Regions from separate parts of the Homo sapiens genome. Here region 2 is linked to region 1. The links come from fine-mapping of genetic effects on gene expression. A gene starts in region 1. The other region holds a variant in brackets. All regions are shown on one strand. Distances are between the middles of the regions.

The links.
Region 2: its variant is fine-mapped to the expression of DNAJC15 in subcutaneous fat (GTEx, PIP above 0.99).

What each region holds. Positions count from the first base shown.
Region 1 is chr13:43,017,470-43,028,254 of GRCh38, forward strand. DNAJC15 (DnaJ heat shock protein family (Hsp40) member C15) reads left to right here and starts at 6,117. Exons shown (of 6, transcript NM_013238.3): 1 at 6,117-6,265. The coding sequence starts at 6,158. RefSeq lists enhancers at 5,936-5,995, 6,006-6,055, 6,566-6,615.
Region 2 is chr13:42,979,472-42,989,594 of GRCh38, forward strand. The region is part of intron 1 of EPSTI1 (epithelial stromal interaction 1); the gene reads right to left. Among named protein-coding and RNA genes, the nearest start is that of EPSTI1, 7.7 kb to the right of the region's middle. RefSeq lists an enhancer at 6,134-6,635. The variant A/G (reference allele first, on the strand shown) is at 6,161.

The DNA.
Region 1 (10,785 bases):
GGCTTAGGTCAATCAGGGGCCACCCTGAGAATAGGGGACAAAGTCAATAGGTGGGTCCATGGTAGGTGGGGCCAAGAGGGATTAAATGTGGAGAAGAATCCAGTTAAAGCCACTATACTCCTCCTTGCCATATCTTCTGCCAGTGCCCTAGTTTAGGGCTCAGCCTCTCTTAGACTATTGCAATAACTTTTTAGCTGATCTCCCTCCTTTTGCTTTGGCCTATCACTACGTTGCTGCCACAATGATCTTCTTAGTATGTAAATCTGATCATGTCACTGCCAGATTCAACATTTTTTGATGTCCTGCTTTTACCTATGAGATAAAGTCTAAATGCCTCTGCTTATTATATAAAGCTGTTCAATACTTGGCCTTTGTCTAGTTATCTGTCCACCCTCATCCATCTTCAGTCGTTTCTTTATACTTTAAACTTCAGCAAAACTGAATGACTTTAGTATTGTTTACATACAAGGCTTTCTCACACATTGTTTCCCCAAGTCTGCCTCATATTTATCAGTTCAGCAAATTTGTTTTCATCCCCCCATTGTCATCTTGATGCTGGCTTCTCCGACTCCTTCCTTGAACATTTCAGGCCCGTTTTTGGTGCCCACTGCACTTTGTCATACAGTAAAGCCAGCCTCTTTTCTGACCAGACCAGGCTAGTGGTTGGTGGGTTAATTGAAAAACCAATTAAAATCTGAGATCACAACAATATACATATTTTAACCTTTTTTTTTTGAGATGGAGTTTCACTCTCATCACCCAGGCTGGTGTGCAATGGCGCGATCTCAGCCCCCTGCAACCTCTGCCTCCCAGGTTCAAGCAATTCTCCTGACTCAGCTTCCTGAGAGCCTGGGATTACAGGCACCTACCACCACGCCCGCAAATTTTTTTTTTTTTTTTTTTTTTTTTTTTTTTTTATGAGAGGGAGTCTTGCTCTGTCGCCCAGGCTGGAGTGCAGTGGTGCGATCTCGGCTCACTGCAACCTCCACCTCCCGGGTTCAAGCAATTCTCTACCTCAGCCTCCCGAGTATCTGGGATTATAGGCGCCCACCACCACATCCGGCTAATTTTTTGTATTTTTAGTAGAGACGGGGTTTCACCGTCTTGGCCAGGCTGGTCTTGAACTCCTGACCTCATGATCCACCTGTCTTGGCCTCCCAAAGTGCTGGAATTACAGGTGTGAGCCACCGTGCCCGGCCAGTAATTTTTGTATTTTTAGTAGAGATGGGGTTTCGTCATGTTGGCCAGGCTGGTCTCAAACCCCTGACCTCAGATGATCCGCCTTCCTCAGCCTCCCAAAGTGCTGAGATTACAGGCGTGAGCCACCGTGCCTGGACACTTTAACCATTTTTTTTTTTACAACATATATAAATTACTGTTTCTCAACCTTTTTTTTCTTCATTATCTCCACCCAAAAGTTTTTTTTTTGACTTTTCTTCTAATACACTCCCTCTACCCACATGAAATTTTAGTGTCACAACAGACACACTGTATGTGTACTCTATGTACATCCGCAGGGCTGCAGGGCCAAGGCCTTTTATTTGGATGTGGGTCCTCTGGTTCAGTTCTGCCTTGGATTTCTTCCACACTGGTAATCCATCCTCTATGATTCCTAATTTGAGTTTGTTTAAAATGAAGGTGGAGCAAGACATTTTAAAAGCAAACAGTACAGAATCATAGTCAGTGTTTGTGATTCTCTTCCCATGCTCACCATTCAACAGCTTTTTAAAAATAACCTGTTTTATCAAATATTTCCAAGGCATTTAATTTCATTTTCATGAAAACAACTATTTCCTCTCCCACAATTATATTTTATCACTATGCGATGTTAGTCAGATTTTGTAATTTCAAAGACAAGACAATTGGTTGGGGATCAACACAACTGCTGGGGGAAGGAGGCAGAGCTAGTGAGAGAAAATACACAAGGAAATAAATCGGTGAAAGAGGTAACATAAAGAAAATAGTAACTAACAATTTTGTAGAAGTTACTAAGTATCAAGCACTGTTCTAGGAGCTTTTCAAAAGTGAACTCATTTAATCCCTACAAGAGAGGTGCTATTATTATCACCTACTTTACTAATGAGGAAACTGAGGCACAGAGAGGTCAATTGTCTTTGTTAAAATTCCTTTCAAACAATAAATTTTTAGAACATTTTCCACTGAGATGTTTCGAAGACATACTACCAATGCAATCTGCCTTTCTTTTACAAAGTCTATTGAACATAATGTAATCTGTCTTTGAAGTGGCGTAACTAATAAAAGTAGGCCAATGAAAATTTAATGTGGCCTCCCTTTTGGGTTTCACAAAAATATTTTTCTTTGTTCTCAAGAAGCTAGAAAATTGAGTTTAACTAAATCAGGAAGAGATCCTTGTGGGGGAGAGGAAAGGACTTCATGGCCCTTTTTTCCATCCTTTCTTTGCTGAGGAGGGTGAATTTACCAAAGAACCAAAGGCTGGGAACTAAGTAATCTTTGTGGATGAGATTTTTCTTTAAAATTGGCTACATCTGCAAGAGCGGATGCCTGAGGCAGCAGTGGAATGAGGTCAGTCGAGTCTACAAGCAGCCAGCTATCTGATCTCAATAGTTTGGGGTCTGAGCTGACATGCAACCCTGCTGAGTCCACCTCACCTCCACCTTGCTATATTCTCCCCTTCCCACTTCTTCTATTCCCCCTTTTCCTGGCTTCTGCTCTGAAAGCTTCTCTCCAGTTCCTGAGCAGGGGCAGTAGCTGCCCTAACAGGAGCTGAAGCTAAGCTGGGTCTTGCTCTAATTGTTCATTTGTTTCAGGCCAGCAGCCTGTTACTGCTAGGGCTCAGCCACTAGAATACTCCAAACTCCAAGGAATCAGAGACCTTATTTGTATGTTTGACTGTATAGGTCCAATGCCTAGCATAGTTCTTCATATCTAACAGATACTCAATAAGTATTTACTGAATAAATAAATGAATGGAAGAATGACCTGTAGGCCTTGATCCAATTCATTTGCTTAGTTTACTAGTGTCCTTCATAGTCGTGGATCCGTTTAACAAAAATTAATTTCTGTAATGAGATTATTTCTGTGAAGAGTCCTGGAATATTTTTTACCCAGTCCTATAAATCAGTGTTTTTCATTTCCTTCCATTTGTTTCCAGTTGAAATTTCTGGCATTTCCTCTCTTCCATCTAAAGAAATGTTACCCATTCTTTACCTCATCTCAATGGCTAAGCCTTCACTAAACCTCTCTGATGACCCCTGTTAAAAGTGGCCATTCCCTCCTGTAAAGTCCAAGAGCACTATGGTTGTAATTCTTTTCATAAGTGCATTATACAAGTTGCTTCCATATCCTGTCGTTTTCTTTTTTATCCCTATGTAAATGAAAAGTTCTCTGAAAAGGAATTTAGAGGAGAGAGACTATCCCAATAAACAGTTTGCAAACCTGAGAGCCACAGATTTCAGTGTAAAAGGAAGGTTTGGCTCTATTTTAAGTTAGTCCTAGTTAGCCACTTGGGATCCATCTTGAAGGATTGGTTCTTTGAGGTTTATATTTGTTTGCACAACTTCCCTGAGTCAGAATGTTGGACAAATGTTATTCTCCTTTTACAGGTAATTTGGAGAGGTTAATGGATATGTTCAGTTATACAAGCCCAGAAAATAATGGAGGTACACTAGAACTCAGATGTCTTCCTTATTCCTGTAACCACCCAATGGGTTTACTTTGCTGGCTGTCTAGACAGAGCCAAATTTATAAAGACGGGGTAATTGCAATAGAGAAAGAGTAATTCATGCAGAGCTGACTGTGCAGGAGACTGGAGTTTCATTATTACTCAAATCAGTCTCCCAGAGCATTCAGGGATCAGAATTTTTTATTTATTTATTTATTATTATTATTTTTTTGAGACGGAGTCTCACTCTGTCCTCAGGCTGGAGTGCAGTGGCGCGATCTCTGCTCACTGCAACCTCTGCCTCCCAGGTTCAAGCGATTCTCCTGCCTCAGCCTCCCGAGTAGCTGGGACTACAGGCACCCACCACGCCCAGCTAATTTTTGTATTTTTAGTAGAGATGGGATTTCACCATGTTGGCCAGGATGGTCTCACTCTCTTGACCTCATGATGCACCCACCTTCGGCCTCCCAAAGTGCTGGGATTACAGGCATGAGCCACCGCGCCCAGCTGGGGATCAGAATTTTTAAGGACAACTCGGTGAGTAGGGGGAAGCCAGTGAGCTGGGAGTGCTGATTGGTCAGGTCAAAGATGAAATCACAGGGAGTCCAAGTTGTCTTGCGTTATCAGTTCCTGGGTGGGGGCCACGAGATCAGATGAGCCAGTTTATCGATCTGGGTGATGCCAGCTGATTCATCAAGTGCGGGGTCTGCAAAATATCTCAAGCACTGGTGGTAGTTTTTACAATAGTGATGTTAGCTCCAGCAGCAATTTGGGGAGGGTCAGAATCTTGTAGCCTCCAGCTGCATGACTCCTAAGTCATAATTTCTGATCTTGTGGCTAATTTGTTAGTCCTACAAAGGCAGTCTAGTCCCCAGGCAAGAAGGAGGTTTGTTTTGGGAAAGGGCTTTTATCATCTTTGTTTCAAACTATAAACTATGAATTACATTCCTCCCAAAGTTAGTTTGGCCTACGGCCAGGAATGTACAAGACAGCTTGGAGGTTAGAAGCAAGATGGTGTTGATTAGGTCAGATCTCTTTCTCAGTTGTAATTTTGCAATGGCGGTTTAATTCCCAGTCCAGTTCTCTTTATACTGCTATGCAATGCATGTGCTCATGTTCTGGTATGTACTATTATTCTGTGTCAGTGTTATCTTCCCTACAAGATTGTAAATTTCTAGGACCTAACTTCTTAGACATGCTAATAATATTAACTAAGTGAACAAATTAATAGACCCTCAAAACTTTAAATTCAGGAATAGAAAAAAAATAAAGCTTTTTCTTCCTGTCAGCTGATTTTGCAAAGGGTATAAGGAGCCAAAGAGCTGCCACGTTGGTACAGAAGTTGGAAAACACCATACGCTTCAACTGCTGGTTAATTTTTGCTCTAAAAACTTGATGGAGGCCAGGCGCGGTGACTCACGCCTGTAATCTCAGCACTTTGGGAGGCTGAAGCGGGCGGATCACCTGAGGTCAGGAGTTTGAGACCAGCCTGGCCAACATGGTGAAACCTCGTCTCTACTAAAAATACACAAATTAGCCAGGTGTGGTGGCACGTGCCTTTAATCCCAGGTACTCGGGAGGCAGAGGGTGCAGTGAGCCAGAGATTGCGCCACTGCACTCAGCCTGGGCAACAGAGCGAGACTCCATCTCAAAAAAAAAAAAAAGCTTAATAATAAAATGGGCTTTTATATATACAAATCAGCACAAACTCATTTGAGGGAGAGTAAGATTTACCTACTTGCTCACAACTTTTTTTCCCCTGCCTCAGGCTCCTGAGTAGCTGGGATTACAGGGACGCACCACCACACCCAGCTAATCTTTGTATTTTTAGTAGAGACGAGGTTTCACCATGTCGGCCAAGCTGGTGTGATCCACCCGCCTCGGTCTCCCAAAGTGCTGGGATTACAGCGTGAGCCACCGCACCCGGCCACAACTTTCTTCTGTGTAATTTCACCTTAAATACAGCCATTTACTTGGGGGTGGAGTAAGCAAATTGCCTCTTTAATTTCTCTCCCGGGGTGGTAGAACTGTGGCATTAAACAGAAGTGCGAACAGAAGTTGAGAGTGGGAAGAAAGGCTGCCCGGAAGGGGGTCAGGAAAGCTCAGGCAAGCCCACCCTCAGGCACTACAGCTAGACTCCGAGCTTACTGGGCAGTCATCTGATTCGACCAACATCAGTTCGCAGGGCTTAAGCCCAGTCCCTTACGGCGGCCTGGGGAGGGACCAGGCCCAAGTATATAAAGCTCCCTGAGGGTCCGCGTTGGCTTTGCGCCTGTGAGTGTGATTCAAGAACGTCCCAGTGCCCTTGGCTCCTTTCGGAGTGTGACCCCGTGCTTGCACGGGACACGTTACCCAGCTCGGGTGAGAAGGGTATCTTCCGGGAACCTCGCCTTTAATAGCACAACGAGCGCAGAGTCCACTGGATCTGCGAGAAGAAACCGCGCTAACTAGTTTGTCCCTACGGCCGCCTCGTAGTCACTGCCGCGGCGCCTTGAGTCTCCGGGCCGCCTTGCCATGGCTGCCCGTGGTGTCATCGCTCCAGTTGGCGAGAGTTTGCGCTACGCTGAGTACTTGCAGCCCTCGGCCAAACGGCCAGACGCCGACGTCGACCAGCAGAGACTGGTGAGTCCTGCCAGCGGCCCCCACCCCTCTCTGGCTCCCTTGTAGTTTCTGCTTCAGCCCCCTCTACCGCCTCACCCTTGAACCTTTGTACTCCCCCGCATTCGCTCACGGTCTGTGCCCTAGCGCTCACTTGTTCAGTGGAGAGACCGCTTTGTGCTGGGCTTTGACGCCTGGGCGTGGAAGACGGAGCAGTTCTGAGGATCTGTCTCCTCAAGGAGCTTCCAGTCTTGTCTGGGACACAAACCAGAAAACAGGCAATTGCAAATACAGTAAAATAAGTGCTGTATGTGGATTTTCCTATCTCATAGGAGGCCCTAAAAACGTCTTGCAGGGGACGTGGTGGGATCAGGGACGCTTCTTGGAGAAAGCTGTAGTTAAAAATTAAGATCTGAATGAATAAAAACAGTCCATTCAGCAAGGAGAAGGGGAAAAAGTGTTTCGGGTACCAGGACTACTGTCTCCAAAGTCTCCGGCACAGAAACAGGGCCCAGTTGGAAACTCCAAGTGGTGTATTCAGGATGAACTGTAGAGCTGGAAAAAGGAAGGGTCTAACAGAAAACTGTCCAACAGAAGCATATTGTGAGCCACATACGTATTTTTACGTTTTTTTTTTTTTTTTTTTTTTTTGAGACGGAGTCTCGCTCTGTCGCCCAGGCTGGAGTGCAGTGGCGCGATCTCGGCTCACTGCAAGCTCCGCCTCCCGGTTTCAGGCCATTCTCCTGCCTCAGCCTCCCAAGTAGCTGGGACTACAGGCGCCTGCCACCACTCCCGGCTAATTTTTTGTATTTTTAGTAGAGACGGGGGTTTCACCGTGTTAGCCAGGATGGTCTCGATCTGCTTACCTCGTGATCCGCCCGCCTCGGCCTCCCAAAGTGCTGGGATTACAGGCGTGAGCCACCGCGTCCGGCATATTTTTAAGTTTTTTGTAGCCATATTAAACAACTGAAGAGAAACAGGTGGGTTTGATTTTAACCATGTATTTTCTTTAACCTGATATATGCACAGTTGCATGGTAATTTTCAACATTCAATATGAAATATTGCCCAAGTGGTGGTTTAGGCTTGTAATCCCAGCGCTTTAGGAAGCCCAGGCAGGAGGATCACTTGAGGCCATGAGTTTGGAGGACAGCCTGGGCAACACAGGAGACCCCATCTCTGCTAAAAAAAAAAAAAAAAAATTAGCTGGGTGTGGTGGTGTGAGCCTGTAGTCCTAGCTGCTTGGGAGGCTGGGTCGGGAGAATCACTTGAGCCCAGGAGTTGAGGTTATAGTGAGCTATGATTTCGCCACTGCACTCCAGCCTGAGAGACAGAGCTAGACCCTGTCTCCAACAAAGAAAAAAAAATGAGGCAGTAGAGATTTAGAAAGTTTTAAGTAACTGGTCCAGGATCATCCCTGGTAAGTGGCAGATCTACGATTCCAAATGCTACACTTTTTCCCTTATGACTTGCTGACTCCTTAGAAATAAGGATTTCTGGATATAGTATTCAGTGTATGATACAGCTGAACAAGATCAGGCAGAAGTAATCCTTTTGTGGAGAGTCGTAAAAATCCGAGTATCAGGCTTTCAAGGTAGTTGGGAGCTGTGGTAATTGGAAGATAGAACTAATATTGGTGACTTTTACATGTGTAGGTATTTTTACTTGGAAGAGGAGAGAGTTTACAGAATCCAGAGTACCACATAGGAAGCATCTTTAGTAGTCCAGGTACTTGAAGGCTAAAGTGTAGGCCAGTGATTCTCAAACTGTCTGTGTCCTGTAATATCCTGAAATCCTGAAGTCAGATTCATAGACAATAAAATCTACCTGTAAACATAACTTTTAATAATCAATATAATGCTTTAATTGAGACATAAAGGTGAAATATTTTATTAGACAATAACATGTCTACAGGCTGCGAGCGGTGTCTCGCTCCTATAATCCCAGCAATTTGGGAGGCTGAGGTGGGTGGATCACTTGAGTCAGGGGTTCGAGACCAGCCTGGCCAACAGGGCAAAACCGTGTCTCTACTAAAAATACAAAAATTAGCTGGGCATGGTAGCACAAGTCTGTAATTCCAGCTAGTAGGGAGGCTGAGGCAGAAGAATTGCTTGAACCCAGGGGGCAGAGGTTGCAGTGAGCGGAGATCATGCCACTGCACTCCAGCCTGGGCGACAGAGCGAGACTTTGTCTCAAAAAAAAGAAAATAACATGTTAACATGTCTACAATTTAAATATGTAAATACTTAGACATTACTACATTAGAAAACATAATGAAGTAATTATTAGTTGCTGTCATATTACACCAATTTGTAGAATCACTGTGTATGTGACAGCTACCAATGCAAATTGTTTATCAAATGTATTATATTGGCTTTTCAAGTAGCAGAAGGACCATTGTTCTTTACAAACTTATTTCTCCTAAATGGTGAACAATTTCTGGTAAAAACTTGAACAAAACAGTGGAATCTCCCTCAATTTACATGGCACTTGCACTTATGGAAGATTCAGTCTGTACTAAAACAGTGTAATAATGATATATTTATATATAATGAAGTTCTGGACTAAGATTATCATAAACTTTTCACCTACTTAATCTTTTAAAATTGAGGGATGCAAACAGTTTTTTGTTACACAGGCTTGTCTCATATATTTTAGGACTTCTACGATCAATGGTCCCCCATCCACCAAATACCCTCCCTTCTATTCAAATTATTGTGCAACCAAACAGGGCCTCACGTACTTTCAGAATGTCCCTAAGGGGTTGTTCTGCTTCTTTTGGGAGTTGTTGGTCCAGGCAATGACCAATAATGAGGCAGAAGATTGTTGATAATAACTTTAGGGAACTTGGAAGTACTGAAAGCAATGAGAAGCTGACAAAAGGTAAATATTAGGAAAGAAAAAAAAATGGCCTAGGTGTAGGGCATATTTGGAAATCTTATGGAAAATAGAAAATAATGTTTGTCAATGAGTTAAAGAAAAACTTTCACACTGTATTTTAAAAATGTAATTCATTTTAAGGTTTATGAAATATATCTTGTTGGGCTGGACATGGTGGCTCATGCCTGTAATTCTAGCAATTTGGAAGGTCAGGTGGGAGAATTACTTGAGCCCAGGGGTTCAAGACCCAGGGTGGGCAACATAGTGAGACCCCTGTCTTTCTAAAAGAAAAATCAAAAAGAAATAAATATATCTTGTCATATTTGTTAAATAACTTTTTCTTAGGTAAGCTTCTCTTTTGAAACTAAGAACTAATGTTCATTAGCCTGCTTAGGAGATTAAAATAATTTTTAAAAATAGGCAAAATATGTAGCATCTTGAATAAAGTTAGCATTTTACAATTAATGGTTTAATAGAAGTCATAATCAAACTTTGCACTAGCAAAGCTGTTTCTCATGGAAAAGTAGAAAAGAAACTTTAAGAGATTATTATCAAATTTTAAAGCAGTTTGAACAAAACTCAGTTTGTATGAAACGGTAGTCATTTAGTTTCCATTACTTTCCTGAAAACTGTAACTCTTACTTTTATTTTTCTTCAATTTTTATTTTAAGTTCCGGGGTACATGTGCTAGATGTGCAGGTTTGTTACACAGGTAAATGTGTGCCGTGGTGGTTTGCTGCACAGATTGTCTCATCACCTAGGTATTAAGCCCAGCATGCATTAGCTATTCTTCCTGATGCTCTCCCTCCTCCCACCCCCACAACTCTTGTTATTATTAGGATAGTGTAACATGTAAAAAAAACTAGACACATATATGTTTCATTATAAACAATCCTGATACGTGAAAACTAAAACCTGTCAAACTAATTTTCAGGCATTTATTCATTTCCAAAAATAAGACAGTACTTTTACTATTTTGCAATGATAACATGATTTAAAACATGTTTTAACAATACTTTGAAGCTTACATTGGTAATCACATGGATTATGTACTGTATACCCATATTTTTAACTTTTTTTTTTTTGAGATGGAGTCTTGCTCTGTTGCCCAGGCTGGAATGCAATGGCGGGATCTCGGCTCACTGCAGCCTCTGCCTCACAGGTTCACCTGAGTCTCCTGCCTCAGCCTCCCAAGTAGCTGGGACCACAGGCGCCTGCCACCACGCCCAGCTAATTTTTGTATTTTCAGTAGAGATAGGGTTTCCCCATGTCAGCCAGGCTGGTCTCAAACTCCTGACCTCAAGCGATCCACCCTCCTCAACCTCCCGAAGTGCTGGGATTTCAGGGGTGAGCCACCGCACCCGGCCTAACTGATTCTTTCCCACTGTTTTTTACACCATAATGGGAGGCTAGAATGTTAAGTTTCATGGACAGGGACTTTATTTGTTCTCTGGTATGTATTTCTAGCATTTATAATGGTGCCTGATGTGTGGTAAACATTCCAAAAAGAAATTGTTGAATGAATGAATGTTATTCTTGAATGGGAAGAAATGAGAAGAACTTTTCTTTCAGTGAATGGAGTAAGAATTTCCAGATGTCTACCAGTGAGTACCATACACAAAAATAGAAAATTCAGCTTATTTAAAATGTAGCTCATTATAGTCT
Region 2 (10,123 bases), 38 kb before region 1:
CTCAGGAGGCTGAGGCAGGAGAATGGCGTGAACCCGGAAGGCGGCGGAGCTTGCAGTGAGCCGATATCGCGCCGCTGGACTCCAGCCTGGGCGACAGAGGGAGACTCCGTCTCAAAAAAAAAAAAAAAAAAGAAAAGAAAAGAAATTTTAAGCCTAACAAGCAAAGTTATATATTATTAAAATGAATATCCATATACTGTTTACTTATATTTACCAACTGTTAATGTTTTCCCACATTTGCTTTTTCTCTTTTAACCATATGAAAATAAGCTGCAGGGTCATAACACATCATCCCTAAATATTTTAGCATGTATCTCCTAAAAATAAAAACAGTCTCCTACTTAAATATAATACCATTATCACACCAAGAAATTTAACATTAATATTGCCTAATAGTCTATATTCAAATTTCCAAATTGTTTCCATTTTAATATTCTTCCCTACCTTTACCTCATCCTAGATCCAATTATGGATTACACATTTCTATGGTTTGACATGTGTTTGTAGACTCCTATGAGCTCAGACAATTTCCTTGACTTTTTTTTTCTTTCTTTCATGACTGACATATTTGAAGAGTTCAGGTAACTTTTCTTATAGAATGCTTCACAATCTGGATGTAAGGAAAAGATTATTTCCTCATGATTCGATTAGGTTAAACATTTTTAGAAAGAATACTAGATAAGACATGTTATCCAAGATGCCACTGTGAGAACAAAGGTTGTTTCCTTGTGCAACTAAATAATAAGCCAAAGTGAAAAACAAGATCCGTCTATATGATGGAGTGCAATCACAGTTTAAAACAAAGATTAGAAAAAGAGTATCTGTCACATTCTATTGGCAATAGAAATCAAAGGGCATTGTATTAGTCCATTCTCATGCTGCTAATAAAGACATACTTGAGACTGGGTGATTTATAAAGAAAAAGAGGTTTAATGGACTCACAGTTCCACATGGCTGGGGAGGCCTCACAATCATGGTGGAAGGCAAAGGAGGAGCAAAGGCACATCTTACATGGTGGCAGGCAAGAGAGCACGTGCAGAGGAACTGCCCTTTATAAAACCATCAGGTCTCATAAAACTTACTCACTTTCGAGAACAGCACAGGAAAAAACAGCCCCCATAATTCAATTACCTCCCATGGGTCCCTCCCACAATACATGGTGATTATGGGAGCTACAATTCAAGATGAGATTTGGGTGGGGACACAGCCAAACCATATTAGGCATCATGGCCCTAGGTTTTCTACTTGGAATAAAGAGTCAAAGAGTGCAATCTGTACTTTAGAGATTTCTTTACACTAAACTCTTTGAAGTGTTTATTTCTAAGGGTCAGAATTGCAGGGGACTTTCACATTCTGTATTATTTTTGAAATGTTTGAGTTTTTATAACAAGCAGATATGACTTTACTTTTATAATCAGAGAAACATATTCTGAAGATTTTTAATAGAGAAATATTTAATATAAAGATTTCTTATAGCAGGGGCTCAGCTTTTCTTACAAGATTAGGTAGCATAGGTTTCTGCTTTCACTAGTACCATAGTAAAACAAACAATGGGCAATACTAGCCCTTGAGTTTTAATGATGGTAAACATCTTCAGTTTTTCTACAGGACTTTAATGGATTTTCTTTTAAGTCTTCATATTTGCAGGGGGTGGGGGACAGGGAATTACAAACATTACAGAACAAAGGAACCATCATCAGCCGATTCTCTGATATAGAATAGACCCTTCAAATGCAGTCATCTCCCTTTGATTATTTTCTTTCCTCTTAAGCTTTTGTTTCAGATTCAAATACATTCTGAATAGATGCAATTAACCTTAATATGTATAACCTTACAGCACTCTACTGACTTTGAAGTAAGTAACCTTACTGTGTAATTGAACTAAGTTTCTTTCTCATTTCTGCTATGGTTCTACTGATTATTGTTAGTAATATGTTTTCAAGCTTTCATCATCCTGTTGATTTATTGTTTCACCGTTCCAGCTGCCAAAGACTTTTTAGCAATTCCCATTCATTTTTGGTGATATTGTATTTGAACAAAAATGATTGCTCCCCAAGGCTTGGCAGACCACAAATGCGTACCATACTGAGGAATGGAATCCAGTGCAGAAAAGTTGGAAATTCCTTCTAAACAGGACCATAATTTCTACCGTCCTGCACAAACAGGAATGTAAATTTGATCTAATCAAACCAAAATGTTTTTTTCTTTTCATCCACTCTGTCTCTTCTGCCATGCATAGAACTGTGCTTTTCAAACTGTAGGAGGTAACCCTCTAATGGGTTATGAAATCAATTCAGTGGATTTATTTTTAATGAACAAGAATAGAAACTGTCAGAGTACATCACATATAATAAAGGTGAAAATTGTTTTGTGAAATTTTTTCAGTTATATATACCCTAATATATACTCAGTCAGGTACTAGGTCATGATGTCAAATGAATTGCTCACTGCAGGCTATGATCAGAAGTCTGAAAAAAAAATCACTGTAAGTTACTATGTTGTTGAGGTTGCACAGTGAGAGTGAGATAACTGCTCTAATGTCAGAGGTGTTTGAACCAGAGAGATTCCACCTTGAATAGGGGCTGGGTAAAATAAAGCTAAAACCTGCTGGGCTGCATTCCCAGACAGTTAAGGCATTCTAAGTCACAGGATGAGATAGGAGGTTGGCACAAGATACAGGTCCTAAAGACCTTGCTGATAAGACAGTTTTCAGTAAAGAAGCCAGCTAAAACCCACCAAAACCAAGATGGCAACGAGAGTGACCTCTGGTTTTCCTCAAAGCTACACTCCCACCAGCACCATGACAGTTTACAAATGCCATGGCAACATCAGGAAGTTACCCTAGATGGTCTAAAGAGGGGAAGCATGAATAACCCACCCCTTGTTTAGCATAAAATTAAGAAATAACCATAAAAATGGGCAACCAGCAAGCCTTGGGGCTGCTCTGCCTATGGAGTAGTCACTCTTTATTCCTTTACTTTCTTAATAAACTTGCTCTCACTTTGCTCTATAGACTTGCCCTGAATTATTTCTTGTGTAACATCCAAGAACCTTCTCTTGGGGTCCGGATCAGGACCCCTTGCCAGTAACACTAACACAAGGCTACCAAGCTCACCTGTCATTTGTGAAAAGCAGCAGAACAAAGGGAATCCCCAGAGAAACTTTTCTCCTGCAAAGTACTTCTCTATTCAAATCATTTTAAAGCTATGATGGGGTTCACGACATGTTATCCCAAAATATAGCACCTTGGTATTTGAGAAAACAGCAAAAGGAGGAAAGCCTCTCTGACCTTCTCCCATCTTTTTCCCCTGAAGCAAGCCATAAAAAATTTCTCTGACCTTCCTCTAAGGTAGGTCATAATATCCTCATTTCAGAGGGATCCTCCCTCCTCCCTAAACCCATAGGAAAGAAGTGGAGACATAGAGACACAAAGAATTTGAACAAACAGGACTTGCTAAGCTTCCCCAGTTTATGTCATTAGACCATACTCCTTTTTGACCAATCATACTTCTATATACTATCCACTCTTCATCAAACCTAAGCATAAAAAGACACAGTTTTCCCTGGTTCTTTGAATCTTCATTTTTGGATGCTCCTATGTCCTATAAAACTTATGTTAAATGAATGGGTATGCTTTTCTCTTGTTAATCTGTCTTTTTTTATAGGGATATCAGCCATGAACCTAGGGATAGGTAAGGAAAGAAATCTTCCCCTCTCTGCAACTGTAAATGTCACATTACTGCTTCGATATTACCACTCTCTTTAGCCTATAGAACTTCTCTTTTCTTAATGTCAATATAAAACAATGATAGGGCTGGGCGCAGTGGCTCATGCCTGTAATCTCAGCACTTTGGGAGGCCAAGGCAGGTGGATCACGAGGTCAGCAGTTCAAGACCAGCCTGGCCAACATGGTGAAACCACGTCTCTACTAAAAATACAAAAATTAGCCAGGCATGGTGGTGGACACCTGTAATCCCAGCTACTCGAGAGGCTGAGGCAGGGGAATCGCTTGAAGCCAGGAGGCGGAGTTTGCAGTGAGCTGAGACCACGCCATTGTACTCCAGCCTGGGCAACAGAGCGAGACTCCATCTCAAAAAAAAAAAAAAAAAAAAAAAAAACAATGATAAGACCTTAGCTAGCTGTACTATCAATCCTTCTATCTATTCTCCATCTGTACATCATATTCAAGATCCAAAATTTGGTAGATAGACATAGGTTTGAATACTGGTTCTGTCACTCAAAAAGCCATGAGATCTTGGAAAATCATTTTATTTTCAAGACTCAGTTTCCTCATCTTTAAGGTAGCAAATGGCTTATCATGAAAAGAATATTCAATAATGTACCTGACATACTTAACACAAGGTCTAGCACATGGCTAATCATGGAAAACACATGAGCTACTAATTGTTATTTTGGTTTTAGTCTCTCAGGGGTACCCAGTTTAATTTTTCCAGATCATAACTAATTTACTTTATGCTACAACAGGATTCCAATGCTTCATTACATTTCTCATTTCAAAAATAAGTCAAATAGTAGTAGTATTAGTATCTGATAATCATTGAGACATCTACCCAGCTCATTGAGACATGTCATTAGGAAGAGTTAAATACTATCTGTTGCTTTATAAACTTTCTGCATGCTAGAGATTGACTTAAATAATCCCCTAATGAATAACCATCTATATTGAGCCATCAAGATTACTCATTACAATCAATCACAGATACTATCTTCCAATGTACTATTATTTCATAACATTAAAAGGAACTCCAGCATTACCCAATTCTCCATCTCCAGGGAAGAATACTAGACTGATGCATTCAGGCCACTTAGCATCTATAAGCAGAATTTTATTCTCATAATCATATAGAGAAGGAAATTGAACATCTGAACATTGCAGTGAGGAAGAAATAGTGAAAACAGTTCTAATATGCTCTAATAAGTTTGTTAAAACTTGTACTTCATTTCAGAATATTTTATGTGGCTTATTCAGATGCAAATAATGTGAGTCAAAATGACTTAAGTTCTGTCTCAGACATAAGAAACCATACTTCAGGATTGCAGAAAATAGACACTAAATAGTGATATTGATAAAAATTTAACACTATAACTTAGTGACTTTATTATTGTATATCCCACCTTGTATTCCATCTTATAATTACAAAATACTTTACAAAATTTAACAATGCTTTTTAAGGAGAAAAGAGAAAAATCAGGATTGGCCATGATGAACTGCTCTTATCAAACCATCATTTATTCTCCTTTTATCTCCCTTGAGAGTTTGGGGATGAAGAGAAGGATTACAAAGATTATTTCCTTCCCTCAAGCATAACAAACTGGTGGGACGCATTAAGGTTGGATCAAGGAAATTAGGAAATGTTTTTCTGGGCCCTGAAGGAGGAAATGAGAAAAAGAATGGGTTTCCCCAATCTGCATAGACAGCATGCCAACAACAGACATAAATAAGATGTCTAAGTGTTGAGGTTGCAGTAGGGTGTTTTAGAGACTGTATTAGTTTGAGTCCTTCAGAAGCTGACACCAAGATGGGGTTAGACAAGCAAGAGATGGATAAGGGGGAATGCTTGTGAAGGATGAAAGTGGGAGCAGGGGTAGGGAAGGAAAGCTTTGAGAACAAGACTAGGTCTGATTACTATTGCCAAAACCTAAATAAAAGACAGTGAGAGAGGCCCTCCCAAAGAAAATCATATTTATTCTGGATTGAGCATTGCAATGGGAATACAGTGGGTATATTCAAGAAGGCAAAGGAAGACAAAGGTTTTTTAAGGAAAAGTGAGGAAAGGAGGGTGATACAAGTTGTTTGAGACAAATATCCTTGGCTACAAAAATCAACAAGGGTAGAATCAGTCCAAGGCTGGACAGACAGTTGCTAGGCAGATGTCCTTGCAGAAGTACTTTTTGTGTAAGGTTGTAGCTTTTGTGCAAAGTTGTAGTTTTTGCAGAGCCTTTTGTGAGAGTTCTTGTTATGAGGCATATGTGCATGAGAATCTTCCCTTCATGGCCCCAGCTCCACGTGTTTGACACAAGTGACCTCATTTTGAGTCTGACAACTTTCATTCTATGAAAGGACCGAAGGAAAGAGGATTGAGTAGCAAGATCCTCAGTGTTATACAGTTCTGAGAAAATCTTGGACACGAATATGGGG[A/G]GTCTTCCAGCAAAAGTTGCCTAATAGAGGAGTTCTGCATGGGCCAGGAATAGGCTAGCACTAAAACCATCCCAAGAAAATTGTATAAAATTGAGCAAGAGAAAAACAAAACAATAAAATCCAACCGGGCTTGCAGCAGCAATCATTAAGCCAGCTTGCCCTTTGGTCCACTTCCTTGTAGCTGGTTGTTGCTCACTAGCCCAGCTTTGAGCTGTCCAATGGACAACCCCAGATTTTCTAGCCCCTCACCCTCCATGAATCCCCTTAAAAACCCTTGCCCAGAACCCATGGAAGAAACAAACTTGAGGCTTGAGAATTCCTCCTGTTTCCTCACTGAGAATGTCGCGATGATTAAACTCTTTCTCTGCTGCAAGTGCCATTGTCAGTGTATGGGTCTGTTGCTGCCCAGAGGGCGTATAAGCCTGGCAGTCCTGCAACAGCACTGGCACCCTGGAATGCTCAGCCATTGGCTGGGATGGGTGCAGCACAAGCCAGCACTCACAGGCAAGGTGTAATGGATCCAAAAGGGTGGCAGCTGGGGCCGTCAGCTGACTATGCTCCCCACTGTAAGTTCTTCTGAAGACAATCTGAATAACAAGTTTCTCTGGCTGTCCAGAGGCCATTTAAACTCCTGTGACATAATAAAAAATAAATATTTAGCCACGGTCCCTGGTTCCTGGGACAGAGCTCCCCAAACCCTTGGGATTCCCAGAGTGCTAAGTGTCTTTTTTATGCTAATGTCTGTTGGTGAGGTCCCTAGACAGCTAGCTTAAGAGACTGGTAGCTAGAAAAACCAGCTATGCGATTGGGGGGTTAAAACTTTCAACCCCTGGCCGGGAGCAGTGGCTCACGCCTGTAATCCCAGTACTTTGAGAGGTCGAGGTGGGTGGATCACAAGGTCAGGAGTTCGAGACCAGCCTGGCCAATATGGTGAAACCTCGTTTCTACTAAAAATACAAAAAAATTAGCCAGGCATGGTGGCACATGCCTGTAATCCCAGCTACTTGGGAGGCTGAGGCAGGAGAATTGCTTGAATCTGGGAGGCAGAGGTGGCAGTGAACTGAGATCACGCCACTGCACTACAGCCTGGGTGACACAGCAAGATTCCATCTCAAAAAAAAAAAAAAAAAAAAAAAAAAACAACTTGCAGCCCCATCTCAGTTTCTGGGGAGAGGCGGGGGCTGGAGATTTAATCACCAATGGCCACTGATTTAATCAATTATGCCTAGGTAATAAAGCCTCAATAAAAGTTCTTGAACTATAAGGTTTGGGGGTCTTCCAGGTTGGCGAACACATCAAAGTATCTACCTAGAGTATGGAAACTCTTCACACCCCACCACCTACCCCTTCATCTCCCAAAAGATGCCTTACGCATCTCTTCCACTTGACTGAGTTGTATCCTTTATGATAAACCTGTAATCATAAATATAGTAATTTCTGCGAGTTTTGTGAGTCACTCTAATGAATTATCAAAACTGGGGAAGGGGAGATGCATGGGAACCCCCAACTTTGTAGTCTGGTGGGTAGACATACAGGTAGCCTGGAGACTCCATTTGCAGCTAGTGTCTGAAGTCTGAAGTGGGGGGCAGTTTTGTGGGACTGAGCCCTTAATTTGTGGGGTCCACACTAACTCTGAGTAGTTAGTGTTAGAATTGAACTGTGGGACACCTAGTTGGGGTCACAGTTAGTTGGTGTTAGAATGACATATTTGATGTCAGGAAAAAAAAAACCACACAACTCCTAATGATCCTGTAGACCAAAGCTCAAACGTCACCTCTAAGGAAAGATCTTCCTGCTCCCAAGACCAGCTGAGACCCCAGCTTTCCTTGCAAGCTTGTCCAGCCCAGGGCCCACAAGGTGCATGTAGCCCAGGTGGCTCAGGATGGCTTTGAATGTGGCCCAACACAAATTCATAAACTTTCTTAAAACATTGAGGTTTTTTTGCGATTTTTTTTTTAAGCTCATCCACTATGATTAGTGTTAGTGTATTTTGTGTGGGGCCAAGACGATTCTTCTTCCCATGTGGCCCCAGGAAGCCAAAAGATTGGATACCCCTGCTTTAAAGTATACATATTTGTTCACATATTAATAAATGTCTGTCCCATCAATTAGACAGTAAGCTTCATAAGGGCTTATTTTGTGTTGAATAGTTATTTGTTCCTAGTTTTTAATTAGTTCTTTTAAGCTAGAGATCCTCTCATTCCATGGTGGTTATGAGGATTGAAAGAGTTAGTATACATAGTGTGCATTTACATACTAGCTACTACGTAAGTGCTATTATTATTATTGCTCATGTTGAAGTCTCTACAATACTAATACGAAGTAGGCCACAAAAATGTTAAGATTAACATAATTTACATACAAATTCAGCTCAAGTTAACTGTAAAATAAAATTCCATATTATAGGTTCATTTTCAAAATATATTTTTATTTTCTTCAAACAGCATCAAGCTAAAGGACCAGGTATGGTTAGACAAGTACATGAATGTGAATTCAACCCTATATTACCAGCACAGGCAAGACCCCATTTCCCAGAATTGGATAAAACTAGGTAAATGCATGTCTTTGTCTTATATTTATCTAGAGGTGATATAAATAATGTAAAATATTTACAAACAAGCAGAATATTAAAAGGAAGGATAAAGGTTTACTTTGGATTAGAAGTTTGTGTAAGCTTTTTTCTCTTTTAATTTGTGTAGACAGCTTTGATATTTAAGGACAAGACAAAAATCACCAAGTAAAAATAATTGGGAAAGCCAGTATGAATTAGTAAATACTTATAATAACTTAAATCCAAATTCCATCAAGAACTCAATCTTGGCCAGGCGCGGTGGCTCACGCCTGTAATCCCAGCACTTTGGGAGGCCGAGGCAGGCAGATCACAAGGTCAGGAGTTTGAGACCGGCCTGGCCAATGTGGCGAAACCCCGTCTCTACTAAAAATACGAAAATTAGCCAGGCATGGTGGCATGTGCCTGTGGTACCAGCTGCTCAGGAGGCTGAGGCAGAGGAGTCGCTTGAACACGGGAGGCAGAGGTTGTGGTGAGCTGAGATTGCGCTGTTGCACTCCAGCCTGAGCGACAGAGCGAGACTCTGTCTCAAAAAAAAAAAAAAAGAACTCAATCTTGTCTGAGAGTCTATCAGAGGTACTCAGAATAATTTAATATATTGATAGCCACAGATTTTTACTAGTATACTTTCTTTCTATGCAAATAGGTGGTTTATTTATTTATTTATTTATTTATTTGAGACAGGGTCTCACTCTGTTGCCCAGGCTGGAGTACAGTGGTACAATCACAGCTCACTGTAGTCTTGGAGCTCCTGAGCTCAAGCTATCCTCCTGCCTCAGCCTCTTGAGTAGCTGGGACAGAGGTATGTGCCACCGTGCCCAGATAATTTAAATTTTTTTTTTTTTTTTTTTTTTTTTGGAGAGACAAGGGACTCCCTATGTTACTCCTGGACTAAAGCAATCCTCCCACATTGGCTTTCCAAAGTGCTGAGGTTACAGGCACAAGCCCCTGCGCCCGACCACAAGTAGGTGTTTTAAACCAGTGTTTTTTTTTAACAAGGCACAAACATTCGACTTAAGGGTGACAGCATAGTACTTTACCAGGAATAAAGTTATGTTTTACACATATACACGTGGAAAAATTAAAACCCTATGAAGTTGGTATTGTCTTATATTAAGTAATGAGGAAACTGAGGCATAAAGTAGCTAAGGATTTTGTTCAAAGAGCAAGTGATGGCATAATCAGAACTTGAACCCAGGTCTACCCAGCATCAGAGCCCATATTCCTAATCCCCACACTGGGGCTGCAGGAGGAAATTAATGGAAGGATTCCCACAAAACAAGACAAATCTTTTACCATATAAATAAATTCACATTATGAGTGGACAAATGAAACTGTACTATTAAAGCACTTTATCCTCTTTTTTCTTTTTTTTTTTTTTTTGCTTTTTGTTT